5 separate regions of the Homo sapiens genome follow, and all the other regions are linked to region 5. The links come from fine-mapping of genetic effects on gene expression. A gene starts in region 5. Each other region holds a variant in brackets. All regions are shown on one strand. Distances are from middle to middle.

Evidence for each region. PIP is the estimated chance that this variant, and not a neighbour inherited with it, causes the effect.
Region 1: its variant is fine-mapped to the expression of GFM2 in whole blood (TOPMed, PIP above 0.99).
Region 2: its variant is fine-mapped to the expression of GFM2 in prefrontal cortex (GTEx, PIP 0.97).
Region 3: its variant is fine-mapped to the expression of GFM2 in liver (GTEx, PIP 0.99).
Region 4: its variant is fine-mapped to the expression of GFM2 in whole blood (INTERVAL, PIP 0.99).

Annotation. Positions count from the first base shown.
Region 1 is chr5:74,726,606-74,733,084 of GRCh38, forward strand. It overlaps GFM2 (GTP dependent ribosome recycling factor mitochondrial 2), which reads right to left. Exons shown (of 21, transcript NM_032380.5): 16 at 6,417-6,479; 17 at 3,655-3,793. Among named protein-coding and RNA genes, the nearest start is that of GFM2, 37 kb to the right of the region's middle. The variant C/T (reference allele first, on the strand shown) is at 3,663.
Region 2 is chr5:74,309,611-74,316,089 of GRCh38, forward strand. No RefSeq gene overlaps it. Among named protein-coding and RNA genes, the nearest start is that of LINC01335, 4.5 kb to the left of the region's middle. The variant C/T (reference allele first, on the strand shown) is at 2,559.
Region 3 is chr5:74,668,704-74,675,182 of GRCh38, forward strand. It overlaps a transcript of HEXB not described here. Among named protein-coding and RNA genes, the nearest start is that of HEXB, 13 kb to the right of the region's middle. The variant G/T (reference allele first, on the strand shown) is at 3,412.
Region 4 is chr5:74,706,565-74,713,043 of GRCh38, forward strand. All of the region lies in intron 6 of HEXB (hexosaminidase subunit beta), which reads left to right. Among named protein-coding and RNA genes, the nearest start is that of HEXB, 25 kb to the left of the region's middle. RefSeq lists enhancers at 1-105, 106-606. The variant G/T (reference allele first, on the strand shown) is at 3,573.
Region 5 is chr5:74,763,510-74,769,988 of GRCh38, forward strand. It overlaps GFM2 (GTP dependent ribosome recycling factor mitochondrial 2), which reads right to left and starts at 3,608. Exons shown (of 21, transcript NM_032380.5): 1 at 3,429-3,608; 2 at 171-257. The coding sequence starts at 233. NSA2 (NSA2 ribosome biogenesis factor) reads left to right here and starts at 3,740. Exons shown (of 6, transcript NM_014886.6): 1 at 3,740-3,854; 2 at 5,422-5,609; 3 at 5,705-5,855. The coding sequence starts at 3,852. RefSeq lists an enhancer at 3,321-3,760.

The sequences.
Region 1 (6,479 bases), 37 kb before region 5:
TTCTTTCCCAAAAAACCAGTAAAGTGTTTTTGGTAAGATTGAAAACAGCATCTCTTATTTGCTAAAAACCAACAATCTCCAATATTTTACTATGTCTGTTACCAATCTCCAATATTTTACTAAAACAAAACTATGCCATATTTATGTGAGGGACCATGTAATGCAGTGATTCATGGCCCAAATTCAAAACTAAGAATTATAGTCTATAATTCTTCATAATTCCTTTGTATGCTTACGTTTTATACTGTGAAACATTTTCTATTTAAAATTATACAGGCTGGATGTGGTGGCTTACACCTGTAATCCCACCCAGCACTTTGGGAAGCCAAAGTGGGAGGATTACTTGAGGCCAGGAATTTGAGACTAGCCTGGGCAATATAGCAAGACTCCGTCTCTGTAAAAAATAATAAAAATTAGCTGAGTATGGTAGTGCACACCTGTAGTCCTAGCTACTTGGGAGACTGAGGCGGGAGGATTGCTGGAGCCCAGGAGTTCAAGGCTACAGTCAGCTAAGATCTTGCCATTGTATGCCAGCCTGCTCAACAGAGCAAGACATTGTCTCAATATATACATGTTTATATATAAATATACGTTTATATATGAGTATATACATATTTATGTACAAGCTAAAAATGAGCATTCATGAAACCTAAAACTACTAAAGAGAGTATTACCAATATTTAGATGCCTTCTGAAGCAACCACTATCATATGTTATCCTCATTATTTTCTTTAGTGTTATATCACATATGCATGTATTTCTAAGCAATAGTTTACTTCTGCTTCATTTTAAATTTGTTATGCCATATGTATACGGCAACTTTTTTGTTCTATGTGTTTGGGAGAGTCGTCTGCACTATTTTCCGACTCCAGCCCTACTCCCCAACTTCTAACAGTCAGCACTTGGCATTCCACTATGAGGAAGACCCCTCCCTCTTCTTCCCTATTTACCTATGTATTATTATAAGTATGAACTTAGAAACTATTTTTTCCCAATGGTCTATACTTGGTATTCAAATTAATCCAGATTTGGCCAGCAGAGTCTCTTCAAGCTGGTTCCTGTGTCCTTATATACCCCCTCACCATCATTTTTTGACCATTTCCTCTCTCACACATAGCATGATATTCCATTATCCTTTCTTATGTTTTATTTCATTTTTAATTAACAAATAATTGTATATATTTATGGGGTATGTGATGTTTCAATACATGTATACATCGTGGAATGATAAAAATCAGGCAAATTAACATCTATCATGTCAAAAAACTTATTTCTTTGTACTGAGATTTAAAATATAAATTATTAACTATAGTCACTGTGCTGTGTAACAGATCATGAGAACCTATTTCTCCTGTCCAGCTGAAACTCCGTACCCCACTTCATCAACATCTCTCCTTTCCCCAGCTTTCCAATCCTCAGCCTCTGGTAGCCATCATTCTACTCTTCTACAAGTTAGACTTTTAAAAGTTCCACATATGTGAGATCATGCCCATCGCACCTATTTTTGATCGTTTCTTGTTCCTTACTAACACAAGTGGCCCTTGAATAATGTGGGGGCTAGGCGTGCTAAACCCCCATGCAGTAAAAAATACATGCCTAAATTTTGACTCCCCTGAAACTTAACTACTATAGAATACTGTTAACAGGAAGACTTACCAACAAATAAACAGTCAATTAACACGTTACATGTATTTTATATTGTATTTTTACAATAAACTAGAAAAAAAAGTTACCAAGAAAATCGTAAGAGAAAATATATTTACTATTTATTAAGTAAAAGTAGAACATCATAAAGGTCTTTATCCTCGTCATCTTTGCACTGAATAGCCTGAGGAGTAAGAAAAGGAGGGGTTTGGCTTGCTGTCTGAGGGATGGCAAAGGCAGGACAATAATCCATGTGTAAGTGTACCTGCATACATACTTTAAACCCATGTTGTTCAAGGGTCAACTGTACTTTCTATCGCCTCTCTTATTTCTTCAAAGATAGTATTTTATATTCTACATCTCATAATTCCAATAACTGAAGCCTTTGCTGGTATGACTACCTATTGTTTCTATTGCCTTTTTGCTCATTGTGCTTTTTCTCATGGTTTTCTGATTTAATTTTATTATGAGTTAATATTCTTTTATGTGTGGGGGTTTCTTTTTTTTTTTTTTTTTTTTTTTTTTGAGATGGCGTCTCACTCTGTTGCCTGGGTTGGAGTGTAATGGCACGATCTCAGCTCACTGCAACTTCGCCTCTGGGATTCAAGCAATTCTCCTGCCTCATCCTCCTGAGTAGCTGGGATTATAGGCACTCGCCACCATTCCCAGCTAGTTTTTGTATTTTTAGTAGAAACGGGGTCACCATATTGGCCAGGCTGGTCTCGAACTCCAGACTTCGTGATCTGCCCACCTCAGCTTCCCAAAGTGCTGGGATTACAGGCGTGAGCCACCAGACCTGGCCATGTGTGGCATCTGAGGCCTGGGTTGATGATATCTTTGGAGAAGCCCTTTTTTCCAGGTTCCTTGGGATACTACCAAGCCATGAGCACTTTACACTAAAGAACTAAGTTCTTCTTGGTCTGGAGTTTTTCAGGGCACACTGGTTCTATGAACTTAGGCTAAAGACCTGTATCAGAAGCCTATGATTACAAATTCTCAGAAATCTTGTTCCCTTACCATACAGCCAGACAAGCAAGTTTCCTTGCCCTCTGCTTTTGTGGAAAGGACTTTTCCTAGTTAATTCTTTCCATGAGGATATGGCTCTCAAGCACTAGGTTAGAGACAATTACAGATTCTTCCAGAATAACTCTAGCCTATAGTGCTGACTTATTTTCCCAGATTACTACTCCTACTTCCTTTTTGACTTCTGGAAAATTCTATTACATTCTAGTCAGCTCAGACATTAAAAGTTGTTATTTTGAGTTCTCTAGCATTTTTAGTTTTTCCAGATAAACAGTCCAGAAAGAGAACGCCTCATGCTATTTGCTCCTGTATTCTGCTTAATTTTTCAAGTTTCAGTGAAATGTAACCATCAGGACTTCTCACAAACTAATGAGGAACTTGAAAGTACCTGGTTATCCTAAACGTCTTTTTTTTTTTTTTTTTAAACAATTTCCCACAAACCTTTCCACACTTTCTTCTTGGGGGTGAGTAGCAATAATTGTTGTCATGTTTTTTGGCTTAAGGGAACCAAATTAAAATCATATGCAGAAAAATTGTGAGTTTTTACATTTGGGAATAGAAGTATAAAAACTATAGTTTCTCAAGATTACTATCAGCATAGAATAATCATATTTATTAAGTACTGAAACTGACTTTCTACTTTTACTTTATAGAGTAAAAATAACACATTGACTTCAAATTCTTAGACTAGTTCTGATAGTGAGGACTGGGACAAGCCATCGACTTCAGTGGCTTACTCTATTCCATGACCACTGAAAAGGACACTTGGTTGATGAGTGGTCATCCAGGAGATGTTATGGCTGATAATCAAATAGGGCTTTCTGTATTCAAAACAAAATCCTAAAAAAACAAAAAAACCCCACATACATAAAAACTGTCTCCTCTGATAGAAGACATTAGTGACTATGAACACTGCTTTCAGCAACTAAATAGAGAAAGAAAGACAGAAAGAGAGAAAAAGCAAATCCTAAATGTTTTACTTTTTACCTGTGGCA[C/T]GAACTGAGTTTAGGATGGTCTCTCGATATGCCACCTGGAGAGGCCCGAGATAGGTCTCCAGTCCATATTCCCTCTTGATTCGATCATGAATAATCTCTATATGTAACTCCCCCATACCACACAGAACAGTCTGGTTACCAGAGGAATGAAATAAAAGATTAAGGGTAAATTATATTTATTGCAGAATACTATATAAAAGTATGATGTTAATACATACTTATTTTTAATTAATTACAGTTTCCTTTGTAATTCTTTTTGGCCCGGGGCTTTTACATCAAAACATTGCTTTTGACTTTTCTGACTGGAATAATGAATCAATAAACAATGAATTACCTGGCCATTCTCTCCTTCTTCTTTGATAGTTGAATTATCTGCTGGGCAAGTAGCATCTGGCTAAGACTAATGATGCCAACACTTAGCTAAATACCAACACTTCCCAACCGCAAAGCCAAATTTCTGGCCAATGGAAGATGAATATAATTGATGTGGACAGCTTCTGGGTGGTGCCTATAAGAGGAGGGTAAAGCCCCTTTTATTTTTTATTTATTTATTTATTTATTTTGAGATGGAGTTTCGCTCTTGTTGCCCAGGCTGGAGTGCAATGGCATGATCTCGGCTCACTGCAACCTCCACCTCCCAGGTTCGAATGATTCTCCTGCCTCAGCCTCCCAAGCAGCTGGGATTACAGGCATGTGCCACCACACCTGGCTAATTTTGTATTTTTAGTAGAGATGGGGTTTCTCCATGTTGGTCAGGCTGGTCTCGAACTCGTGACCTCAGGTAATCCACCTGCCTCGGCCTCCCAAAGAGGTGGGATTACAGGCGTGAGCCACCGCACCCGGCCAAAGCCCCTTTCTTAACGAAAATGTAGGCAACTGTCATGACACATCAGAATGAGGGCTATACCTTGTAAATGGGGGGAATAACCTTTCTAAAAAACCTTTCCCAACAACATGGGCATTTCCCAATCATCCAGGGCACTTTACAGCTTTGTAAGCAGTCAAAACCTTCAGACTAGCTTGAACCTTCATATGAGGGAGAAACTGACTTTTATCTTTTTTGAACCAATGAAGACTAAAGGTATTAGCGTATTAGCTTGAATCTATGGAAGGGACTGGAGACTAAAGGTCAACTACATGGACAGTATGATCAAGCCCCAATAATAATTCTGGCCACCAAAGGCTCGGGTGAGCTTCCCTGGTTGGCAATACTCTGCCAAGAGGGTAACATGTCCCTGAGGATAAAGGAAGCATTGCAAATGTTTAAAACCCTCCCAGACTTTGCTCTAAGTGTCTCTTTGGCTGATCCTAATTTAAATCCTTTTGCTGTAATAAAACTGTAATCACAAATTTAAAAAAAAATCACTTGGTATAGGACTGCTATACTTTAAGTTAAAAAGTGAACTATTTGGGGAAAATAGTTGTAAAATAATACAAATAAAATGACTTGTTTATAGGTATCTGTACATATATACTTGCAAAACTATATTATGCTGCTGCATAACAGCACAGCAGAAGAACATATGTTTGGGTAAAAAGTGTGAAAGGCTATTCACCAAGTTTTCAGTGGTTATTCTGCAGAATGAGATGGAGGAACAGAGAAACGGACTTAATTATTTACTTGGTAGATTTGTGTATTATTTGCTTTTTTTTTTTTTAAACGTAGTGCCAGTTTTTATTTTATTTATTTTTATTTATTTTTTTCAAGACAGGGTCTCGCTCTGTCACCCAGACTAGAGTGCAGTGGTATGATCACAGCTCACTGTGGCCTTGACCTCCCAGGTTTAAGCAACCTTCCCACCTCAGCATCCTGAGTCGCTGGGACCACAGGTGTATGCCATCATGCCTGGCTAATTTTTAATTTTTTTTTTTTTTTTTTTTTTTTGTAGAGACAGGGTTTCCTTATGTTGCCCAGGCTGGTCTTGAACTCCTGGGCTCAAGCAATCCTCCCAAAGTGCTGGGATTACATTTCAATTATTTAAATAATAGGTTTTTTAAAATAAAACATTTCTGTTTTAATTACTGTTATCATACTCTTCAGTATCAATTAAACTAAATTACTACCTCATTTGGCTGGCATTTTGGGAAAACAAAGTACTCCATGCTTTTCCAGGTTAACTAAATCAGTTTATCCTTTTTAAAGATAAATTTATAACCTTTTTAAGAAACTCCTTCTAAAATCTTATGTAAACATTACCCTGTCCTCCTAAAAAGAGGATGCAGAATGTAATTTAATCATTTCTTGATGAATCAAAACATCTGTTCTACTGTGCTATATTATACAGCACAGTTCTGCACCTACTTTAAAACTCCACTTCCTCTCACAGTGTTACATTGTAATCTATCACTTCTCTCCCATTTTAGGTGTTTTACTGTCTTCAAAAGCACCTTCCAATCCTCCTTCTAGTATGCTTCTTTTATAAGCCTTAACGTAAAAGGCTCAAGGCTTTGCCTTGATTAAACCTTATTTCAAAATTTCACAAAAAGCTGTCTTCAGGAATGGTAAAAAATGTTGGGAAATAGTTTATAAATGTGAAGTGTAATTATATAAGGAAAATTTGCTTATTTAGCTTGATAGTCAACATAAAAGCAGAAATTTGTATTATGAGAGAATTTAAAAAGAAAGGTTTTTCTTTCAGGACACAGACTTAATGTTTTAGACACACACACACACACACACACACACACACACACACACACACACACACACACTCTTATAGAAAGGCTTCTGGAGTTTAGCAATAATATACCTACTTGTCCAGAGTCAGGATCTAGCCTCACTTTCAAACTGGGATCTTCACGCTGAAGACATTTCAA
Region 2 (6,479 bases), 450 kb before region 5:
CATTCTCAAAGGCAAAGATTCTGTTTTATTCATCTCTACACATCTTCCTCTCTTCCCCTTTTACTAAGTCATGGCAGATATAGCCTGCTATGAAGTTGGCACCATTAGAGAAGGTATGGTTGCTTAGCTGTATCTGTGCCTAAAGTGAACATGTGTACTCTTAGTCACACCCAGTTTCTACTTCCACTTCTTGTGGAAACAGTCCCCATCTTCATTTAGAAATCCATTCATCTCCTATTTTCAGTCTACATGGTTCCAGGGAGATGACCATAACACAAGCTCATTGTGACATGTGATTCAGACCACCCAACATGATTATTACATTTTTCAATAACTGGCTTAGAAAGGACATTTAACCCAACAGGGACAATGAGATACCTTAGAGTTTTCTTCTGAGGTGTTTGTGAGGGAAAGAGTCACTCTTATTGCTTGCTGGATTTGAAACTAAGAACTATCTTGCTGTCACATGGAGTTGACACTTTTAAGCTTACAAAAAAAAAATGACCAAGTCAAAATATGATGATAATAACAGTTGTGATTAACTAACCTAAGCCCCCAAATCTATCATTCTGAAGCCCTGAATACCTTTCATTAATACATTCCCTTTTCTGCTTAAGCCTTTTTGAGTTTCCTGTCACTTATTACTGACACAGACTCCCTGAGACAAAGCTTTATAAGGACCTTCTTTGACTCCTATCAACTGCAAAAACAATATCTAATAAAAAACATAAGAAATGGCTGTGTGGGTGATATTTATGCTGGTGTTAGGAAAGCTCATACCCCGGCAGTAGAAAACATAGCAATTCAAAAGCACATGTTCTGGGAAGTGACTGCTAGCTGGGTCTGTTTTTTGCTTTACATCATTGCTCTCTTCTGTGAGTACTAATAATTGAGACTAGGTCATATACTTTATAAGTGCTTCAACAGCAGTGCAATTGGTCCAGGAAGGGAAGTTTGGCAGCTGAGTCACCTGTCAGGATAGTGTGTTGCAGGAAATCTCCAAATCAAGGAGAGACGCCTTCCCAAGGAGAGGTGGAGCTGGACCGGGCAGCTGTGGGAAAAGTTGGTTTCTAGCCACAGGCTTTTTCTGTAGGTAAATCAAACCAGCCTAGTTTTCCAATCTAGGCACAGAGCAGGCACTCCAGTCTCAGACACTTTGATCCTTTCCATAGAGGACAAAGAGGTAATGGGGAGAGGCCATAGCCTACTCATTCAAGAAGGTAGTTCTCAGGATGAAAGTTCATCACAAATGTCTGTCCTCTCTGGATTTTGGCAGCTTTGTTGCCTGACTTGAATAATGGATCGTGTCAGAACGTTACCTAGAGGAATATGCCCACTGCTTAGCGAGTATCTTTGACATTATTGACCTTGAGTAACTTGAGGAAACAGTAGAGTCTATGATTTGCTTCATCTGAGGTTGATATTTTTTCCAACTACAAATAGTAGCTTCCCGCTTCCCCAGGATCAGACTCAGAGGGTGCCTTAAACGTCAATGCTGAACTACTCATTTCAGCTCCAGGAAAATAAGTCTGTTGTGTCTCAAAAGAATTGTTCTCTGAGGCAAAACAATCTTTTGCTGCAACGCCCCCACAAAAGCCTGCATGAAAGGGTCACACAAGTATGTACAAAGGAAAGATCAGTGAAGATTTCCTTTCTTCTCCCTCCGTTTTTTTTCCTTTTAGCGCTGAGCTATGAACATGCTTAAAAGTCCGAGTGATGAGATCAATTCTGAATGGTCCTTGTTCTTCAGGATAAGTTCAAAGGTATCAAAAGTCAGCCTTTAAGGCTGAAGGAAAAATGCTTTCTACTTTGCCGCCAAAAGAGTTTGAAGTCTGGGGGCTTCATAGAAATTCCAAGGTGAGAACCAGAAGGGAAGTCATAGACTGTTCCCTGACATTGGAGGATATGGCTTTTTTTTTTTTTTTTTTTTTTTTTTTGTAGGGAAATCAAATCCACACAGCTGTGCCTTTGGAACAATTAGACACACCTAGAAGATCACACCAGGATGTTAAGAAAATGAGACAAACAGTGAGCATTCTGACATCATATACACTGATTGGCTTTTTAAACTCTGGGGCCTTTTCACACAGATTTTACCCAGATAAAAATGCAAGCATCTGAACCATATGCTTAAGTGTTTTCTCTGTACCGCTGGCTGGAGCAGCTGGCAAAACATGATCTAGGACTGCTAAAACTGTTCTGACAAAAGCACTTTAGTGGGGTCTGCAGGACAGGGTCTGAAAGATGTCAGAATTTTTAAAAGGTACTAATTGCTCAAAGGATGAAGCAATCCCTCTGAAAACTAACCCAGCATTTTAATAGAACCCAGAACAATACTGAGAATCTCAGAGGGAAAATCTGCTTGTTTTCTAACTCCTGCTGATAAAGAGGAAAAGCATAACCACTAAGCACAGGGCAATGTGGAAGAATGTATTGGCTTTTCAGGCACCTATGAATCCTTCAAGAACTGTACCCAAAACTTTAGCAATTGAGCAAGAAACAAAAGAGCAGAAGCCTATTACCAAATCACTGTTGGAAAGAAGGCTATTTGGCCTCTG[C/T]AAACCTCTGATGTCTGTCAGTTCAATCCTTCCAACAGCTCTTGCAGAGGTCCGCCAGGAAGACAGTGAGGGGACTGTGGCCAAGGGATGTGGAAGAATGTCCTGTCCTCAACAGGCAGGCCCATTAACCCTCCAGGGAGAGCTCAAAACCCACAACAGATCTCTGACCCAGTTATTTGCCTCATGCAATCAATGACTGTCTAATAGGAATTTATCAAACCTATGAAATCTTACATTACTAGGCAGTGAAACCAAGTAAGGACTAAAAAAACCGGATGCCATCTGAATCAATCAGGACTTGGGGACATGGGTCCCTATCGTGATGTTTTACACAGCCACAGTGCCTCTCTACATCAGAGGAGCTCACAGATTCTGGGCTTCTGATAATCATTTCTCAATCCTGTGAATATAAACCAAAACTAAAATTCTAAGTTCCTCAACCATCTGAAGGGACCCATCCTCTCAGCCGGGGGCATTCCAAATTTTACCTAAAAACTAGCTCAGGCCATGATGGGAAGAGGGAGCTGGACATGCCTCATTATACCTTCCTTCCTGTTGGAATTCAAGCACAGCTGACCAGCTTTAACATCAATACAGAGACCTTAAGATTGATAGAACAGACTCTTAAGCCTGATAAGTAATATTTACAATCTATTCTCTCTGAAGCCTGCTGCTGGAGGCTTCCTCTGCATGACAAAACCTTGGTCTTCAGAACCTCTTCGTAACCCAGACATTCTTTCTATAAACCAGACATTCCAGGTCCTTAGATAATAACTCTTTCAACCAATTGCCTATGAAAAAATCTTTGAATCTGGCCAGGCATGGTGGCTCATGCCTGTAATCCTAACACTTTGGGAAGCCAAGGCAGGCAGGTTGCCTGAGCTCAGGAGTTCAAGGCAAGCCTGGGCAACACTACAAAACCCCATCTCTGCTAAAACTACAAAAAATTAGCCGGGTGTGGTGGAGTGCACCTGTAGTCCCTGTTACCCAGGAGGCTGAAACCAGAGAATTGCCTGAACCCAGGAGATGGAGGTTGCAGTGAGCTGAGATTGTGCCACTGCATTCCAGCCTGGGTGACAGAGCAAGCCTCTGTCTCAGAAAAAAAAAAAATCTTTGAATCCATCTATGACCTGGAAACACCACCACCTCAACTCCCAATCCCCCTGCCCTCCACTTCCAGTTCTCCCGCCTTTCCAGACCAAACCAATGTACATCCTACATGTATTGATTTGATGTCTTATGTCTCCCTAAAATGTATAAAACCAAGCTGTAGCCCAACCACCTTTGGACACATATTCTCAGGATCTCCTGGGGCTGTGTCACAGGCCATTGGTCACTTACATTTGGCTCAGAATAAATCTCCTCAAATATTTTACAGAGTTTGACTTTTTTTGTCGACACCTATTTTATCAACAGAACTAGGAACTTGAAGATGAATAAATAACTCAATATCTAACATACACAAATACATCACAGTAGAATCCTTGGCTCTTGATCCCCATTGCCAATGGCATTTTCAATAAGAACAGAGGAACTAAATTAAGCAAAGAAAGATGGTTCCAGTATAGCCATTCTATTCTCCAAATGAGCAATTAATATGTTACTGCTGGCTGAAAGAATATGATATAAACAGATAACAACATAAAACACATCCCAGGTTAGTCAGTATACACACAAAACACATTAGTCTCTGATGATACATCCAGGAATTAATTGAGTATAAAATATTGTGTAGAAATGAGGACACTCTCATGGCAATGAAGAATAATAATGGTTTTACAAAATACAGCAGTGAGCCCAGCATCCCATTACCCTCCCCTCAGTCCCCTTCCTCTCTGCCTTTTCCTTCCGCCTGAGACAGCAATGCACAACTGAGGGAGTTGCCCGAGATGGCTAAACGGAGGGCATGACTTCTGCAGATGAATCAGCAGATGTGTGGCCTACTGCTCCCTCAGAACTCAATCAGAACTCAGGAGCGAGTCGCTCTAAGATGGTAATAGCCTCATTACTGAGGTTATAAAGGCAGCAACATGTCTTCTCTGAAAGATAAAACAGTATTATCCACATTTCATTTGGTAAATTAAATCCCTTTGAGCTTATTTACCATCTTGAAGATAGTGCTATTCTCTGTGAGCAGAAGTTTCAAAGTGAGATTATGCTAATAACTCATCCTTGTGTCTCATTGGCTTAGCACACAGGGATGACTAGTGACATGGTATCTGCACAGAGGATGCTCTCCCCTGTCTCCAGAATATGCTGGCATTCAGCCTTCTGCTTGGCTGGAATTTTTAGTTTTGGGGTCTTTTGATGTTTGTTTAGGGAGGGAGGGAATATTATTATTACCTTGACGCTACATACCTTGGAGGTTTTAGAACTTCTGGCACATCTATCATTTATTGAGCACCTACTACATACCAGACCCTGTGCTTAGTTCATGCACATGCATTATCTCAACAATTGTCTCTTGAGATGGATATCATATCTCTCCATTATGCAAACTGATATGTCAAGAAGTTAAATTTCTTAGCCTAGCTAAAAGAAATAGTAATGATTTTAAAATTGGAAGCTAAATATACATCTATTGACTATCTCAGAGCCCCCTCCCCAGGACTGTAGCTTTGCCCAACCATCAGAACCAGGAAGAAGCTGACACTGTGTCTGTGAACTGTAGCCACACAAACATGTGTGCAATATTCCTACCTACACAAAATGTGAATGTGTCAGCATTTGCCCAACTTCTTAATAAGGTACCTGCCATTCTTCCCAGTCACTGGGAGCCCAAGGACAGCAGGAGCATTTATTTCTTCCTCTGCATGTGAAAATCTACAACTCAACCTCAGTGCATAACCCATGGCTAGTAAAGTGGTCAAAAGAAGTACCTGGAGCCTACCAAATAAGAAACATGCAAATGGTATGTGAACCATCCAGTGTTACCAGCTCTCTGGTCAACCCAGTGCTGACTTTCCTACTTGGCCTCTTGGGAAAGAGATAATGATCAAAGTAAACAATTTTACCACACCTTAGAAAGTTCTAGGTATGAGATAGTTAAATTCAGGGAGAATACAATCATAAATTAATACACTTTTTTGATTATGAACATATATGGTCTGGTTAATGCAGAGAATTAGAATATGAAAAGAACCATATTGAAGAATATTAGTCCTCAACGTGAAGACAAGCTGATCTCATCACCACCTCTGGTCACCTATATTTCTCTTATTGCAGCTAATCAATATGGCCCACTATAGTGGGAATAATTATGATTACATAACTATGTATCTGAAATTTTGCCAGGTTAGAATCTGCTCAGCCTTTCCCCAAATCCATATCTCCCAATTTTGCGAGGCATGTGGTCCACAAGAAATCACTGCTCTTCCAAGAATTGGTATAGAGACAGTCAAAGGTCACCAAGGGTCACCAAGTCATAGGGCAGTTCTCAAACTTTTCCACCAAAATCTCTCAAGGGCAGAGGGAGCCAATACATCACTTGAAGGGTGAGCCCAAATGCCTTCAACAAGTGAATGGCTTCTTCAAAGTCTCATGCTTGTGATAATCTTTCATTTTTGCCCATAAGTCCACATATTTCAATATAAAAATAATCGTTTTTATTACTTATGTACTTAGAGTTGAAGCTTTAAGAATGCCTCCATGAATCTAGTATTTCAAGTGCCACCTTACATTCTGAGGGTAGAAATATGGAATCTAATGTCCTCAGTTCTTAAAAATCAGAGCAAAGGGTAGGAGAGAGAGAAAATGGATGAAAAGAAGCCGTCTGGTCAACTGAATGACAGAGCTAAATTTATTGCAAATTGATAATAAGAACAAACCCTAGCCTGCTCTATTTTAAAGAAGACTGTGCAAATGTGTGTGCATTGTCTCCCAGTTACACGGGCAGTATAAGCACCATTTCACAGCAAGGAT
Region 3 (6,479 bases), 95 kb before region 5:
AAAGAAACACAAGTCATGATCAAGAATAGGTAACTATAGTGTAATTCATTAAATGTTCTGATGGTCTCCAATCTTGAGTGATTTAGTCTATGAAGGATTGTGTCTCCTTTTTTAAACTGTACACATATTCAAGTGCAGAAACTGAGACTAAACATTCATCTCTATGTTCATTAAACAATTGCATTTCCTTATTTGGATGCAAGTCTTCTGTCCATTTTTCTACAGAATGTTTATTGGTTTGTGCGGGCATTTTTTTCTTTTCTTTTCCTTTTTCTGAGACAGAGTTTTGCTCTTATTGCCCAGGCTGGAGTTCAACAGCACAATCTCGGCTCACCACAACCTCTGCCTCCCGGGTTCAAGCAAGTCTCCTCCCTAGTAGCTGGGATGACAGGAGCACACCACCACGCCCTATTAATTTTTTGTATTTTTAATAGAAATGGGATTTCACCATGTTAGCCAGGCTGGTTCCAAAGTGTGAGCACTTCATATAGTAAATATACTATGCCATCACTAGCTGTGTTTGCCATGGTATTTTTTAAAGTTCAAAGAGTACCTTTAAATTTAGGTTACTTTTTCGACATACAAAATTTAATTTAACTATTTTTTTTTTCAGTTATGAGCATTATTCAAATCTAAGCTAAAAGGGAGACAGTCCTCCTTCTACCACAGATTTGATAAATATGCACTTTCAATTTCTTCTAGGTTTTAAGTAACTTACCTTATCAATAAATCTGGAATTAATTTTGGGAGGACTGAGATAATTATCTAAATTGATTTTTCCCTAGGGAACTCATCAATTCTTCCTTTGCTATTTATTGAAAATCCTTCTCTTTCTCCCTGATCTGTCATGTCTCCTCCAGCATAAATTAAATTTTTACACTGAATAGGATCTATATCAGGATATCAATCCTACATCATCGATCTGTTTGCCTCTTCTTAAACCAGCACCATGCTGACTGTAGAATGTTGACAAGCAGAGCTAGGGATACAGGGTGCCAAGTGGCTGGCAGAGGAGAGAGGGAGGATTTCCAGGGAAGACAGTGTGGTCTTGGCATAAAGACAGCAAAACGGAAGTTCAGGGCCTCATAAGACAATGAAAAGTCATATCTCAATTTGGCTGAACACTGGGGGAAATAAGTAAGAGACTGGGGAGAAAAAGAACTAGAAGGTAGTGGGCGATGCAGAGACAGGCCAGGAGCCCCAGGTTAACAAGAACTTCCCATGTGCAATACCATAAGTGATATAAAACTGTGGAAGACGTGTTGATAGCAGCAGGAGGCAGACCAATCCTAGGCAGACAGGGGTGGGTCCCCAGTGAAACCTGACCTTCAAACCAAAGAGAGTTTGAAGCCTGAAAGCCAAGGTACTAGTCTTGCATAAATCCATGGACTGATTGAGAACCTCTCTTCCTGTTTGGTGCACTTTCCTCTGATTGATCCCCACCCTTCACCTATTTTACATATACCTACACTTCCCTAACTGGTTTTTTTTGTACACTCTCATGCCCACCTGTGAGTGGTGCCTTTGTTTTAGCCTCTTTTTTTTTTTTGCCTACTCACAAACCAGTCAGTACACACTCCCTATTCTGAGCCCATAAAAGCCCTGGACTCAGCCACACTGAGAGAAACCATCAACTTCAGGCGGGGGACCACCCTCACGTCCCCTCTCTGCTGAGAGCTATTTTATTGCTCAATAAAATTATTCTCCACCCTCCTCGCCCTTCAATTGTCAGCCCAATTTCATTCTTCTCAGAGGTGAAACAAGAACCCAAGACCCACCAAATGCGAATACACAGAAGGCTGTACTACTGTGGCCCTCTGCCCTCCGCCAGTGAAGCGCAGCTGCCTCATGTAACAGGAAGTAGCAGCAGGGCCAAGCCAGCCCCCAGAGCTGCCAGCCAGGGTGGGGCAAGATGCTAACAGAACTGTTAACATGCTGTCAGTCAGGCTGTGGATGGCAAGACTAAAAGAGCTAATTAGCACTCTGTAACACCCCCTCTGGGACTTTGGGGTCATGGGTGCACCTGCCCGGGCGCCACTGCATTCCTCTTGTTTAGATGCTGGAGTCCACTGTGGGAGTGGTTTGCAACACGCCTGGTCCAGCCACAAGACCCACACAGAGCCTGCTCCTGTGCTGCTTGGAACAATTGGCTGGACCCCGCACTTGCTCGCTCACACACCCCCTCCCACCAGGGGCCAAGCACATAGTCACGGTGGCTGCAGGATCTGTACCAGAATGCAGGCCGGGTGCAGCCCAGGAGGCCAAGTGGACAGAGCATCTCTGCAGCAATCCCAGGTCCCAGCAAGGCTGGCAGGAAGTCTCCTGACAGGAAGTCTTCAGCCAGCAAAGTGACCGAGAAAAGTCCTATATCAGTATTATTGTTATCCTCAAGGGATAGGGTGGTACACAGAAAGACTGATGGTAAAAAAACAACTACAGTAAGGGACAACAATGCCACAAGAGTACTGGCAACAAAGTGTTCCAAGACCCATAAAAATAATAATCGTCTCCTCATTAATCTTATGTATTCATCAGACCTTACGTCCACTGAACCCTTGAGTACTGGAAACAACCCAAAGGTCCATCAACTAGTAAATGGATAAACAAATTCCACACCCTGAGTACTACTCAGCAATAACAGGAATAAACTGTGGATACGCACTACAACCTGGATGAATCTCAAAATAATTATGCTGAGTAAAAGAAACCAGACAAAAAAAAAAGCCATATGGTACATTTGTATACAATTCTAGAAAATGCAAACTAACCTGTAGTGACAGAAAGCAGATCAGTACTTGTCTGGATGGAAGGTAGGGCCAGGGGCAGGGAGGGGAGAGAAGGGTGAAGCGGGGAGATTGCAAAAGGGCCTGAAGAAACAAGGGGAGTGATGGGTATGTCCAATATCTGATTGTGGCAATGGTTCCACCGCCATGTATCTAAAACTTACCAAATTGTATACTTTAAATATAGGCAATTTATTGTATGTCAATCACACTCAGTAAAACTGTAAAAATAAATTTTATCTTATACTTGCTGATTCTTTTCTAATAGATCTGGGCCAAAACTCAAACACTGATATTTTTTTCAAAGCTCTCAAGATGAGCCTGATGCACAGTGAGGTTAAAAATCCCAGGTCCCATGATACCTGAGATGCTTCCTGGGTGTCCGATTCTGTCTGTCTGCAATGGGAGGACTCCTTGGTGAATGCTAGGAAAGTATTCTCCTCACATGGAGACCGGCGCCTTGGTGAGAATAGGTGGCGGCCACTCGTTTGCTGTTGGTTATTCCTGCTTCTGTGCCTCACACTGGAATTTGGGCTGATGAGGTCTGTGTGCTTTGTTCCTGCAAAGCTTGCAGTCTGATCCAGGCTTCTGCTATCCCGATATATGTGATGCTTGTTCTCAGGCAATA[G/T]CCCCCACCCTGACCCCTCTCTAGCGTCATGACTTTGTGAACTGTCAAAGTGGTCACCACATGCCCCTCATCCATCTCCCTGCCTGTGGTACACACTGCGAGCCCTTCAGGGAATGTACTCCTTGCTCCAATAGGGCAGCCCTCCAGGGAAGCCCAGTGTCCCCTCAGCTAACCAGCATATCTTCAACAAAAAAGCAGTTATTTTTCCACTTGCCTCTGGAGGCTTCCAGCTGAGCTTTCTGGTCCTTTGCACACTGCACAGCTCTTCGTGCCAATATTGCCCAGAGCACTTCCACCAGTGCCAGCTGCCTGCCTGTAAGTCCTGGTGAGAAGTGAGCCCTCACTCCATGCCCCAGAGTCAGATCCACAGCCTCTGAAGCTATAGACCACACTGAATGCCTCTGACAGAGAGCAGAACCAAATTCCAATCCCTAGCCCCCAAGAACATTCTCTCTCACGAAGACAAACTCCCCACCTCTCTCTAGACTTCTTTAAAAGGGAGGAGAGGGCAGGCTGACATGCCAACTGACAGCAATGCCCTCTTAGCAAACCCTGCACTGGGTAGCTAGTGCCATTTCTGCTTCCCTGAGAGATGTCCTGTCACACCTCCTTGTTCATATCCACACGTCAAATTAAGTCCTTTGTCTATTACATTTCCCAGTCCCCTCCCGGTTCAGCTTTCTCCATCATCTCATATACAAGACAAATCGTAGAGAGTGGAAGGAAGGTTAAGAAGGACTATTTTTAAGAGGGGTAGGAGACATGCAGTTGCCAACATGAACTTTGCCCCCAGTCTGGAGACTTTGGATTTAGAAACCTTAGAAGGTTTGCTTCTTGTGGCATCAGAGCAGCCTTTGGTCACCAAAATGTTTCCAGATGGATTCAGATTTTTTTTTCTTAGCATCTTGGTACTTGGTCTGCATTAACAGATCAAATGAATACCCAAATTATATAAATAGTATTCATTAATAGAAAAGGTAGAGAATTGGGGAACAAGATAGTGTGGATTCCCACCAGATGGCACTGTTTAATAGATAAGGAAGAGAAAGTTGTTTTTGTGGCTAATTTTAGCAAAGCAGGGAGAAATGCTTGCCAGTTGCCAGAGCAGATTTAACTCCAAGCCGTCTTCTTGCCCTTCTGGACAGGCCAGTTTAGCTCCCCCTTGCCAGATGGCACTCAATCTCAGTTTTCATAATTGCAGTGACAGAATTCACAAATATTTCGGGTTGCTTATGGATATGTCATGAGAGTAGAAAAATGTGATCATCTAATTTCAGGAGCTCCGTCCCTGCCACAGAATGTTCCCACTTCTGCAGGAGTTAGGCAGCTTTGCTTGCTTGTCTGCCCAGGTCCTAGGCTGTCCACCCACCTCAACAAATTGTATCACTGTCCATGGGGATGCTGAAGTGGCTCACTAGGCATCCATCCATCTCCCCTCCTCCCAGTGTGTCCTCCGGTAGAACAGAGGCTGGCAACTACACTTCCCAGACTCCCTTGCTGCTGGGGTTCCATGTTCTTTAGTTTCTGCTCATTAGATGTGATTGCATGAGCCTTGAATTCAGAAGTGAGTTAGGTGGAGACTGAGACAGGGCATGACGTATCCCTTTGCTGTGTAGACTGGAGCTGAAATGGTGTAATTCTAGAGTTAGCACCTATAGCAGAGGCTTCTCCATCCGGCATGCAGCTTCCTGGTCATGACAAGAGCAGTTACTCAAGAAATTTCAGCCAAGAGCCAAGTTCTTCAGCTCTCACAAGGATTCTGTGAGCCACTCGATACTCTGTAATTAGTTAATTCCTCCTAAAGCTAGCTGGAGTGGATTCTGTTCTGTCAATCTACAATAATCAAAAGGGTCAGAATTTAGTTATACTCAAAGTGTGAGGATGAACCACCCAGAAACACCAACTCCAAAGGAATGGAGTTGGCATTCAGAAGCAGGGAAGTAAATATTTCATTTGTATAGGTGGGAACAGAGGAATTTTTAGCAGAATTACAACATTATTATTCATGTGAGTCTGGCACATTCTTATAGCAATTTAATTGGCTATAGGCCATGTTTCTTTTTGAGAAGGGTACATTTGACATTTTTTAACAGAGGGTGTAATAATCATTGGTTGTTTGTCATTTGGTCTAAACAAACTAGAACAAAGGGGAAGTTAAATCTATAACAAGAGTCCAAGGTCATCAATTAAGAAGAAAGGAGGTTTTCAGCCAGGCGTGGTGGCTCAAGCCTGTAATCCCGGCACTTTGGGAGGCCGAGGCGGGCAGATCACAAGGTCAGGAGATCGAGACCATCCTGGCTAACATGGTGAAACCCCGTCTCTACTAAAAATACGAAAAAATTAGCCAGGTATGGTGGCAGGCGCCTGTCGTCCCAGCTGCTCAGGAGGCTGAGGCAGGAGAATGGCGTGAACCCGGGAGGCGGAGCTTGCAGTGAGCTGAGATTGCGCCACTGCACTCCAGTCTGGGAGACAGAGCAAGACTCTGTCTCAGAAAAAAAAAAAAAAAAGAAGAAGAAGAAAGGAGGTTTTTATCTCAGATGCCATTTATTTATCTCTAGTCATTATACAGAATGAGAAAAATAAGAAAGTAAGCTAATCTATAATCTGAGAACAGAAGTTGTAAGCATATGTGATGCGGATCACAGTCACATCTCTGTCAAGGCTTAAGGCATTTTTGGAGGTTCCAAAAAGCTTCTAAATTTTATTTATTTTCTCAGTTCTCTGTAACTAAGCATTGAATGACTGATAGATTATCTACCTGTAAGTCTGAGCTAGAAATCTGATAAATTTCCTAAATTCCTCTTTTCCTCATTTCCCATAGCTAGCTGATCCACAGATATTGTGAGGATATTATCTAAATAAGTTGTGGTAAAGAAAAAATTATTTGGACACCTGTCAAAATGATAAGGAAGCCTTTATTCAGGACTATTCCAATAGGTGTCAAGACTATTGCAACATGGGAGTCAGATCAGGCTGAACTCTGAATATTGCAAAGACAGCTGGAAATTTATAAGCAACCAGCAGAGTGAGGGGGTCAGTGGATGGCAATTTATTAAAAGGAACCATCA
Region 4 (6,479 bases), 57 kb before region 5:
CACCGGGAAAATCGGGTCACTCCCACCCGAATACTGTGCTTTTCCGACGGGCTTAGGAAACGGCACACCAGGATATTATATCCTGCACCTGGCTCGGAGGGTCCTACGTGCACGGAGTCTCGCTGATTGCTAGCACAGAAGTCTGAGATCAAACTGCAAGGCGGCAGCGAGGCTGGGGGAGGGGTGCCCGCCATTGCCCAGGCTTGCTTAGGTAAACAGAGCAGCCGGGAAGCTCCACCTGGGTGGAGCCCACCACAGCTCAAGGAGGCCTGCCTGCCTCTGTAGGCTCCACCTCTGGGGGCAGGGCACAGACAAACAAAAAGACAGCAGTAACCTCTGCAGACTTAAATGTCCCCGTCTGACAGCTTTGAAGAGAGCAGTGGTTCTCCCAGCACACAGCTGGAGATCTGAGAACGGGCAGACTGCCTCCTCAAGTGGGTCCCTGATCCCTGAGCAGCCTAACTGGGAGGCACCCCCCAGTAGGGGCAGACTGACACCTCACACAGCCGGGTATTCCTCTGAGACAAAACTTCCAGAGGAACGATCAGACAGCAGCATTCACGGTTCACGAAAAACCACTGTTCTGCAGACACCGCTGCTGATACCCAGGCAAACAGGGTCTGGAGTGGACCTCTAGCAAACTCCAACAGACCTGCAGCTGAGGGTCCTGTCTGTTAGAAGGAAAACTAACAAACAGAAAGGACATCCACACCAAAAACCCATCTGTACATCACCATCATCAAAGACCAAAAGTAGATAAAACCACAAAGATGGGGAAAAAACAGAGCAGAAAAACTGGAAACTCTAAAAAGCAGAGCACCTCTCTTCTTCCAAAGGATCGCAGTTCCTCACCAGCAATGGAACAAAGCTGGACGGAGAATGACTTTGATGAGTTGAGAGAAGAAGGCTTCAGAAGATCAAACTACGAGCTACAGGAGGAAATTCAAACCAAAGGCAAAGAAGTTAAAAACTTTGAAAAAAATTTAGACGAATGTACAACTAGAATAACCAATACAGAGAAGGGCTTAAAGGAGCTGATGGAGCTGAAAGCCAAGGCTCGAGAACTACGTGAAGAATGCAGAAGCCTCAGGAGCTGATGTGATCAACTGGAAGAAAGGGTATCAGTGATGGAAGATGAAATGAATGAAATGAAGTGAGAAGGGAAGTTTAGAGAAAAAAGAATAAAAAGAAATGAACAAAGCCTCCAAGAAATATGGGACTATGTGAAAAGACCAAATCTACATCTGATTGGTGTACCTGAAAGTGAAAGTGACGGGGAGAATGGAACCAAGTCCTACTCTGCAGGATATTATCCAGGAGAATTTCCCCAATCTAGCAAGGCAGGCCAACATTCAGATGCAGGAAATACAGAGAATGCCACAAACATACTCCTCGAGAAGAGCAACTCCAAGACACATAATTGTCAGATTCACCAAAGTTGAAATGAAGGAAAAAATGTTAAGGGCAGCCAGAGAGAAAGGTCGGGTTACCCACAAAGGGAAGCCCATCAGACTAACAGCGGATCTCTCGGCAGAAACTCTACAAGCCAGAAGACAGTGGGGGCCAATATTCAACATTCTTAAAGAAAAGAATTTTCAACCCAGAATTTCATATCCAGCCAAACTAAGCTTCATAAGTGAAGGAGAAATAAAATACTTTACAGACAAGCAAATGCTGAGAGATTTTGTCACCACCAGGCCTGCCCTGAAAGAGCTCCTGAAGGAAGCACTAAACATGGAAAGGAACAACCAGTACCAGCCGCTGCAAAATCATGCCAAAGTGTAAAGACCATCGAGACTAGGAAGAAACTGCATCAACTAACAAGCAAAATAACCAGCTAACATCATAATGACAGGATCAAATTCACACATAACAATATTAACTTTAAATGTAAATGGACTAAATGCTCCAATTAAAAGACACAGACTGGCAAATTGGATAAAGAGTCAAGACCCATCAGTGTGTTGGATTCAGGAAACCCATCTCACGGGCAGAGACACACATAGGCTCGATATAAAAGGATGGAGGAAGATCTACCAAGGAAATGGAAAACAAAAAAAGTCAGGGGTTGCAATCCTAGTCTCTGATAAAACAGACTTTTAAACCAACAAAGATCAAAAGAGACAAAGAAGGCCATTACATAATGGTAAAGGGATCAATTCAACAAGAAGAGCTAACTATCCTAAATATATATGCACCCAATACAGGAGCACCCAGATTCATAAAGCAAGTCCTGAGTGACCTACAAAGAGACTTAGACTCCCACACATTAATAATGGGAGACTTTAACACCCTACTGTCAACATTAGACAGATCAACGAGACAGAAAGTCAACAAGGATACCCAGGAATTGAACTCAGCTCTGCACCAAGTGAACCTAATAGACATCTACAGAACTCTCCACCCCAAATCAACAGAAGATACATTTTTTTCAGCACCACACCACACCTATTCCAAAATTGACCACATAGTTGGAAGTAAAGCTCTCCTCAGCAAATGTAAAAGAACAGAAATTATAACAAACTATCTCTCAGACCACAGTGCAATCAAGCTAGAACTCAGGATTAAGGAACTCACTCAAAACTGCTCAACTACATGGAAACTGAACAACCTGCTCCTGAATGATTACTGGGTACATAACGAAATGAAGGCAGAAATAAAGATATTCTTTGAAACCAACAAGAACAAAGACACAACATACCAGAATCTCTGGGACACATTCAAAGCAGTGTGTAGAGGGAAATTTATAGCACTAAATGCCCACAAGAGAAAGCAGGAAAGATCCAAAATTGACACCCTAACATCACAATTAAAAGAACTAGAAAAGCAAGAGCAAACACATTCAAAAGCTAGCAGAAGGCAAGAAATAACTAAAATCAAAGCAGAACTGAAGGAAATAGACACACAAAAAACCCTTCAAAAAATTAATGAATCCAGAAGCTGGTTTTTTGAAAGGATCAACAAAATTGATAGAACGCTAGCAAGACTAATAAAAAAAGAGAGAAGAATCAAATAGACGCAATAAAAAATGATAAAGGGGATATCACCACCAATCCCACAGAAATACAAACTACCATCAGAGAATACTACAAACACCTCTATGCAAATAAACTAGAAAATCTAGAAGAAATGGATAAATTCCTCCACACATATACTCTCCCAAGACTAAACCAGGAAGAAGTTGAATCTCTGAATAGACCAATAACAGGAGCTGAAATTGTGGCAATAATCAATAGCTTATCAACCAAAGAGTCCAGGACCAGATGGATTCACAGCCGAATTCTACCAGAGGTACAAGGAGGAACTGGTACCATTCCTTCTGAAACTATTCCAATCAATAGAAAAAGAGGGAATCCTCCCTAACTCATTTTATGAGGCCAGCATCATCCTGATACCAAAGCCGGGCAGAGACACAACCAAAAAAGAGAATTTTAGACCAATATCCATGATGAACATTGATGCAAAAATCCTCAATAAAATACTGGCAAACCAAATCCAGCAGCACATCAAAAAGCTTATCCACCATGATCAAGTGGGCTTCATCCCTGGGACGCAAGCCTGGTTCAATATAC[G/T]TAAATCAATAAATGTAATCCAGCATATAAACAGAACCAAAGACAAAAACCACATGATTATCTCAATGGATGCAGAAAAGGCCTTTGACAAAATTCAACAACCCTTCATGCTAAAAACTCTCAATAAATTAGGTATTGATGGGACATATCTCAAAATAATAAGAGCTATCTATGACAAACCCCCAGCCAATATCATACTGAATGGGCAAAAACTAGAAGCATTCCCTTTGAAACCTGGCACAAGACAGGGATGCCCCCTCTCACCACTCCTGTTCAACATAGTGTTGGAAGTTCTGGCCAGGGCAATTAGGCAGGAGAAGGAAATAAAAGGTATTCAATTAGGAAAAGAGGAAGTCAAATTGTCCCTGTTTGCAGATGACATGATTGTATATCTAGAAAACCCCATTGTCTCAGCCCAAAATCTCCTTAAGCTGATAAGCAAATTCAGCAAAGTCTCAGGATACAAAATCAATGTGCAAAAATCACAAGCATTCTTATACACCAATAACAGACAAACAGCCAAATCATGAGTGAACTCCCATTCACAATTGCTTCAAAGAGAATAAAATACCTAGGAATCCAACTTACAAGGGATGTGAAGGACCTCTTCAAGGAGAACTACAAACCACTGCTCAATGAAATAAAAGAGGATACAAACAAATGGAAGAAAATTCCATGCTCATGGGTAGGAAGAATCAATATCATGAAAATGGCCATACTGCCCAAGGTAATTTATAGATTCAATGCCATCCCCATCAAGCTACCAATGACTTTCTTCACAGAATTGGAAAAAACTACTTGAAAGTTCATATGGAACCAAAAAAGAGCCCACATTACCAAGTCAATCCTAAGCCAAAAGAACAAAGCTGGAGGCATCACGCTACCTGACTTCAAACTATACTACAAGGCTACAGTAACCAAAACAGCATGGTACTGGTACCAAAACAGAGATATAGATCAATGGAACAGAACAGAGCCCTCAGAAATAACGCTGCATATCTACAACTATCTGATGTTTGACAAACCTGAGAAAAACAAGCAATGGGGAAAGGATTCCCTATTTAATAAATGGTGCTGGGAAAACTGGCTAGCCATATGTAGAAAGCTGAAACTGGATCCCTTCCTTACACCTTATACAAAAATCAATTCAAGATGGATTAAAGACTTAAACGTTAGACCTAAAACCATAAAAACCCTAGAAGAAAACCTAGGCATTACCATTCAGGACATAGGCATGGGCAAGGACTTCATGTCTAAAACACCAAAAGCAATGGCAACAAAAGCCAAAATTGACAAATGGGATCTAATTAAACTAAAGAGCTTCTGCACAGGAAAAGAAACTACCATCAGAGTGAACAGGCAACCCACAATATGGGAGAAAATTTTCGCAACCTACTCATCTGACAAAGGAAATATCCAGAATCTACAATGAACACAAACAAATTTACAAGAAAAAAACAAACAACCCCATCAAAAAGTGGGTGAAGGACATGAACAGACACTTCTCAAAAGAAGACATTTATGCAGACAAAAAACACATGAAAAAATGCTCATCATCACTGGCCGTCAGAGAAATGCAAATCAAAACCACAATGAGATACCATCTCACACCATTTAGAATGGCAATCATTAAAAAGTCAGGAAACAACAGGTGCTGGAGAGGATGTGGAGAAATAGGAACACTTTTACACTGTTGGGACTGTAAACTAGTTCAACCATTGTGGAAGTCAGTGTGGCGATTCCTCAGGGATCTAGAACTAGAAATACCATTTGACCCAGCCATCCCATTACTGGGTATATACCCAAAGGACTATAAATCATGCTGCTGTAAAGACACATGCACACGTATGTTTATTGTGGCACTATTCACAATAGCAAAGACTTGGAACCAACCCAAATGTCCAACAATGATAGACTGGATTAAGAAAATGTGGCACATATACACCATGGAATACTATGCAGCCATAAAAAATGATGAGTTCATGTCCTTTGTAGGGACATGGATGAAATTGGAAATCATCATTCTCAGTAAACTATCACAAGAACAAAAAGCCAAACACCGCATATTCTCACTCATAGGTGGGAATTGAACAATGAGAACACATGGACACAGGAAGGGGAACATCACACACTGGGGACTGTTGTGGGGTGGGGGAGGGGGGAGGGATAGCATTGGGAGATATACCTAATGCTAGATGACGAGTTAGTGGGTGCAGCGCACCAGCATGGCACATGTATACATACGTAACTAACCTGCACATTGTGCACATGTACCCTAAAACTTAAAGTATGATAATAATAAAAAAAAGAAATGCTTTAAATTTTAAAAAAAAATTCACATTTCTCCAACTGTCTTTTTCTCTTATTTAAAAAATTATTTTAAAACATTTGCAGTGGGATACAAATAAGCTCCATAATTGTGGTGAGTTAATATGTCTAGTAATTCTTTTTTGATCTACAGGTCTGCTCTTCCCACCTTTTTCTCCTGTAATTGTTGTTGAAGAAACTGAGTCATGTGTCCTACAGTTTCCCACAGTCTGGGTTTTGCTGATTGCACCCCACAGTGTCAATTAATATGTCCCTGTATTTACTATAAACTGGTAGTTGAATCTAGTCTTGATAGAAATTTGATTTGCAGTGCTGGGAGACAAGACTGCTTTTCCGCAACTGAGCACTTATAGGCCATAGTTTGAGAAATGTGCTAAGGAACAGCTCACAACTTTAGTTACAAACAATATTGAGTTCTAATTTTTCAAGTGACCTATAAAGGGACTGAGGTAATCATTAAAAAAAAACAAGTCACTTATTCTGGAGTCTATATGGGAATTTTTCAAGCTTATAGTAATTCAAGCTGATAGTCCTTTGAAGGACAACAGCTATGCTTTGTAATAAGGTGTGCATTTTGAC
Region 5 (6,479 bases):
TTTCTTAATAAATTAAGGTAATTACTTTCAAATTAGTTTAGCTTGAAGATTTCCAAAGGTTATGACTCAACTAAATTTGGAATCAACAGCTGATGAGATATACTGGGCATTTTAGGCAGTAAAGGAGCTGAGGTTGTTAAAGGACACTTAATTTTATAAGAAATGCTTACATTAATATACACACTGGGTATTGTCTGATGACTCATTGCAAATATCCTCAAGTTGGTCAACATCTTGATCCTCCAAACTGTTACTGTCTGAAAAAATAAATATACAAAATCAAAAAACTAAACTTATGTATTACATGTCAGCAAGGCATATGTAAGTTAGACATATGTAATATGTATGGTAAAATGTATTACTTTTAAAAAGTTGGAACAATATTTTTAGCTACCAAAAATTCAATGCATCATTCAGAAAATGGAAAATTCTGATTAAATATGAGAAATATGGTTTTTAGGTTTAAAATGTCCCTTATTTGTCAATGTAATGTTTAAAGAAAGATATGGCGATACAGTAGAAATCAACTTATTGAAATTACAAAACATTGTATCAACCAAAATGCATTGTTATGTAAATGTATAGAATTAAGCATAAAAAGCTAAGCATCCACATATTAACTTGGTAATTTCTAATTGGCAGTAAAATTTATTGATTCATTTGTATACTCTGATTTTCCTACCATACCATGTAAAAACTAAATCATGTAAAAAATATATAAAAGCAAGTCCTCTTCCTCTCTGATTATAGAAACTAAGCATCTTTAGTTTAAAAACATTTGCTAAATATTCACTATGTTTCAAGTACAATATCAAAGCTATTAGAAATATAAGGACGCAGCTGAGACTGGGGATGCTGGGGAGACAGACAGACCATGTTAAACCAAGCTTGTCCAACCCGTGGCCTGCAGGCCACATGCGGCCCACGATATCTTTATATGCAGCCCAACATAAATTCGTAAACTTTCTTAAAATATTATGAGGTTTTTTTTATTTTTTTTTAGCTCATCAGCTATTGTTAGTTATCATTAGTGATTTTATGTGTGGCCAAAGACAATTCTTCCAGTGTGGCCCAGGGAAACCAAAAGATTAGACACCCCTGTGTTAAACCATTGTGATCCATGTTATTAAGATATGTGAAACCTCATTACTACTCCTAAGTCTGTTCTTTCTGGATCTTAGCTAAGAAACATTCACTACTCTTATTTAGAAAGTCATCTAATACTTACATTTGATTTCCTAAATATATTTGAATCTGTTCCCTTTGTTGTTTTTTTTTTTTTTTTTTTTTTTTTGAGACAGGGTCTTGCCCTGTCACCAAGCCTGGAGTGCAGTGGCTTGATCTCAGCTCCCTGCAACCTCTGCCTCCTGGGTTCAAGCGATTCTCCTGCCTCAGCCTCCCGAGTAGCTGGAACTACAGGCATGTGCCACCACACTTGGCTACTTTTTGTATTTTTAGTAGAGACGGGGTTTCGCCATGTTAGCCAGACTGGTCGTGAACTCCTGACCTCAAGTGATCTACCCACCTCGGCCTCCCAAAGTGCTGGGATTACAGGCGTGAGCCACCATGCCTGGCCTTGAATCCATTCCCTTTTCATTGGTAACGCCAAAGTTCAGGGCCTCATAGTCTCTCCACAGTTGTGACTGTAATAGACATTTTCCTCTTCTTTAACTCAGTGGTTGTCAATAAAAAGATAATTTGCACAACCCAGCCCTCCCCCGCCCAAGCCTATTCGTTCCCATTTATTCAACAAGAATTTACTGTGTGTCTGCCTACCCACTGCTTTCTAGATATCAGCGTTAATGCAGTGAACAAAAGACAACAATCTCTGCCCTCATACTGCCTCTACCGTAGTCAGGGGATACAGACAACAAACAAAAGTAACGAATACAATACATAGTCTCTCCCATGATGATAGGGTGCTGTAGAGAAGAATGAAGCAGGAAGGAGGAATTGGGACAGTTAGAACTGTAAGTAAAGAGATCAAGGAAGGCCTCATTCAAACAGTGACATTTAAGCAAAGACCTGAAGTAGATGAGGGAGGAAATTCGGGGGATTGAGGGACGGCGGGGAGGGGCGCATTAAAGGCAAAGAGATTATATAACGTACTGTACCTAAAATATACAAATGCTAGTTACTATTTCTGGTTTTAAAGAGAATGATGAGATCACCTTAGAAAATGGAGCCTTAAAAAACTGCTTCAAAGGCGGGGCTCGGTGGCTCACGCCTGTAATTCCAGCACTTTGGGAGGCCGAGGCAGGTGGATCACCTGAAGTCAGGAGTTCGAAACCAGCCCGACCAACATGGTGAAACCCCATCTCTACTAAAAATACAAAAATATTAGCTGGGTGTGGTGGCGAGCGCCTATAATTCCAGCTACTTGGGAGGCTGAACCTGGAGAATCGCTTGAACCCGGGAGGCAGAGGTTGCAGTGAGACGAGATGGCGCATTTGCACTCCAGCCTGTGCGACAAGATTGAAACTCCGTCTCAAAACAAAACAAAAACTGCCTCAAAGCCGGGCGCTGTGGCTCAAGCCTGTAATCCCAACACTTTGGGAGGCCGAGGCGGGTGGATCGCTCGTACCCGGGAGTTCGAGACCAGCCTGGGCAACACGGTGAAACCTCATCTCTACAAAAACTACAAAAATCAGCCAGGCTTCGTGGCGCGAGCCTGTAGCTCGCTACTTTTGAGGCTGAGGTCGGAGGATCGCTTGATCCCGGGAGGTCGAGGCTGCGGTGAGCCGAGCTCGTGCCCCTGCACTCCAGCCTGGGCGACTGGGCGAGATGCCGTCTCAAAATACCCATAAAAACAAAAACAAAAACAAAATACTGCCTCAAATACAAGCACTAAGAATTAATGAAAGTATTCTTTTGGTACAGTTCTTTTTGTTCATCAACTGAATCACGCTGCAAGCTGTGAAGTAATTAAGGGAACTTCTGCAACTGTGCAGTAAAAGGGTAAACCTGATAGTGTATTTAAGTAGACGTACTTTCTGGTAGTTAATTACTTCTTGACACTAGGGGGCCACTAAATACAAGTCCACTCAGCATTTGATTCGGTGCACCAAAATGCCTCAGAAATTTCTGGAATCAGTCCTGTACCTCCAAAAAACCAGAATGTTATCTTCTTCTTTTCTAACAGCTGCAAAGCCCCAGTAGTTCCATTTTTCTGTACACTAAGTTTTCATTCCTCAGTATCCTTCACAATCATGCACACATTACACAGAGTGACCGGAACAAAGATGAGTCGACTTCGCCGAATGATAGAGAAAAACTTCCATACTGAGCGAACACCGAGGGGAGTCCGGAGGCCCTGTTGTCCTCTTCCGTGGCTGGCTGTGTCCGTCGCAGCCTGAAAGGTCAGCGGTACCCAGCGCTGTGACAGGGTCACAGGCGCGCGATGTCTCACAGCTCGGAGCAGTACTCACCTGGCATTAGGCCGCGTGCCGCAGGCCAGCTCTCACCGCTGGGCTCTTGAAGCAGGAGGCGCGAGCCGCGCCAAAGTCTGCAACGGCCTCAAGTCTCGACGCCAGCCTAGGCAAAAGGCAATGTATCTAAACGAAAAGAAAATAGGCTTTCTCCGCTCTACCGCCTCGGGCAGCCACACCTCCACACTTCCGGCGGTGTACCGGCCAAATGCCGCCTGCCAGCAACTTCCGTCCTCCTAGCTAAAAGCGGAAAACAGAGGCTCGGAACCGCTGCGTGGTTCTTGCTCTTCACTCGGCCGTTTTAAAGGGTGACTCTTTCCTGTCCCGGCCTGCGTGGTGTGGGCTTGTGGGTCTTTGAGACCCGAAAATTGAGAGCGTTTTCGCACTCCAGCGGCTGCTCCTGGCGGCTCTGCGGCCGTCACCATGGTAAGGAGGATGCCTCGGACGCTCGCGACACACAGCGTCTGAGTTAGTGGGACCTGAGGACTCTGGGGCGCTGGGGTAGGGGGTGAGCGGTGGTAGGCGGAAATGAGAACTGCCAAGAGAAAAGGATGGTAGACCCGTGGGGTGGGCTCTGAGGAGTGGAAACAACTTCACATTCGAGACACAGACGGTATTTGCCAGAACACAAGCTTTGGAGCAAGATTTTACTCTGTCCTGTTTTCTTTTTTCTTTTTGATCCACCGCTAAGAGTCCTAAAAATTCCTGATTTCACCACAAGCGTGGTTATCAGCCCCAGAGCCTAATGGGAATATGGTTGTCCCTTGTACAGTCTTAGATGTCAGTCCCGCCCCCTTCATTTTACTGCTGAGGAAACTGAAGGCGTCCTTGCCAAAGACCAGACAGCTAATGAATTGCGAAGCCGGGCTTAACGGCCCAGATCTAACTGCCAGGTCCTTTCTCTTTGTGTTACGTCTCTATAATCTGCGTTTCTTTGCAAAATGGCATTCCATACACCCTTCATGTGATTGCTGCAAAGTTTATGTGATAGCAGTTGGTAGCAGCACACCTTGTTGGTTGTTACTTAACATTGCTCTCTGTGCTGGACTTGGCTTTGTATCATTTTTATTTTTGCAGCCTTAAAATACGAATAGACTCACGCCTGGCCGCGTGTTTAAAACGTGTCTAAAATGCAAAAAGCATCCCATACATTGCTGGTGAAAAGAAAAATAATGCACTTTTGGAAAACGGTCTGGCAGTAAACACACGTCCACATGAAGACTTGCATGCAGTTGTTTATTGCAGATTTATTCGTAATCACCCAAAACTGGGAACAACCCTGATACCTATCATCTGGTCAGCGGGTAAACAGTGGTGTATCCATACAATAGCATACTACTCAACAATAAAAAGGATTGAAGTTCCTATACCTGCAGCAAATTGGGTGAATCCCAAAAGCAAGAAACCAGATTCAAAAGGCTATGTACTACTGTTGATCCCTGTTTCATTCTGGGAAAGGCAAAACTGTAGGGATAGGTATCAAACTGAGGGTTGGGAAAGAGGATTGACTTAAAAGTTACATAGGGAATTTTAGGGGGAAATGGAAATTCTTTGTATTTTGATTGTGGTGGTTACAGAACTGTGTAGTTAGGAAAAACTTAGAACTGTATACCTAAAAAGGACAGGTTTTACTGTGTGTAAATTATGCTTCAATAAAACTGACTTAAATTTTTTAAATGTGAAATGAAGGTGTTATTAAAAAAGCAAATTATGTCAAGGAAAAAAGATACTGTAATCAGTTCATCCCTTTTGTGGTCCAGTAGATTTTGGACCATTCCCTAATGAGATTATTAGAGATGTAAGCCCTGATGCCTCATATCATTCAAGACCAAAATTTAACTTACATCATGTGAATAAACTTAATGGTGCAAGAATCATTTAAGTAAGTGAACATTTGGATGAAACAGGGTCTTTGTGCTGTGTAAAAGAAAGCATTTTAGAATAATTGTCAGTACTTTAAAAAATTAAAATAATATTTCTTCCATCATTATAGCCACAGAATGAATATATTGAATTACACCGTAAACGCTATGGATACCGTTTGGATTACCATGAGAAAAAGAGAAAGAAGGAAAGTCGAGAGGCTCATGAACGTTCAAAGAAGGCAAAGAAAATGATTGGTCTGAAGGCTAAGCTTTACCATAAACAGCGTCATGCTGAGAAAATACAAATGAAAAAGACGTAAGTGGTCTCATTTATTTGTCATAACAAGTTAACATCTTTTGAGTAATCATTATTAAAACAGATAATCTTGAATCTTTTTTCCTTCTTGGTAGTATCAAGATGCATGAAAAGAGAAACACCAAACAAAAGAATGATGAAAAGACACCACAGGGAGCAGTACCTGCCTATCTGCTGGACAGAGAGGGACAATCTCGAGCTAAAGTACTTTCCAATATGATTAAACAGAAAAGAAAAGAGAAGGCGGTAAGCAATAACAATTGAAGTCTTTGTTTTGTTTAGGAGAATTACTTAAATTCAAATTTGAGGTTCTTGTTTCTCGGTTTAATTTCAAACATGAAGTACAGCTATTATTCCCATTATTTAGATGTTGAAGTCTTTGTAAATTTAATAAAAAACTTGCTTTCTCATCATAAGGTTTTAAAATTTAAGTTATAAAAAAAATTTATTAGAATGCCATATGAAATTAAAAAGCTGGTAAGGAGTGAATTTCAAATTCAATATTTGTCTTCCTGTTTGAAAACCCACAGTGCTATGCAGTCATAAAGAAAAATACAAATGCTTCTTATTTGTGCTGCCCTGTAGTGCCAAACTTGGTTAAAAAGTAGAATGGTGGAAAACTCCCTGAGTTGTCACAAAAAATGTGGCTTTTTAAAACACCTGTAAATAGATTAGCAGAAATCCAGATAAAAGAATATGCAGTATTTATATTTAAAGAATTATTTTTACTGCCTTACACTATTTCAGTTTTTTCATAGAATTTGCACTCAAGGGAGGCATAAAACATCTGGTGAGGATTTTGTCTTGCTAGTGATCTACAGATCCATCTCGGGAAGAAATACAGAGACATATTAAGAGGTGGAAACACTC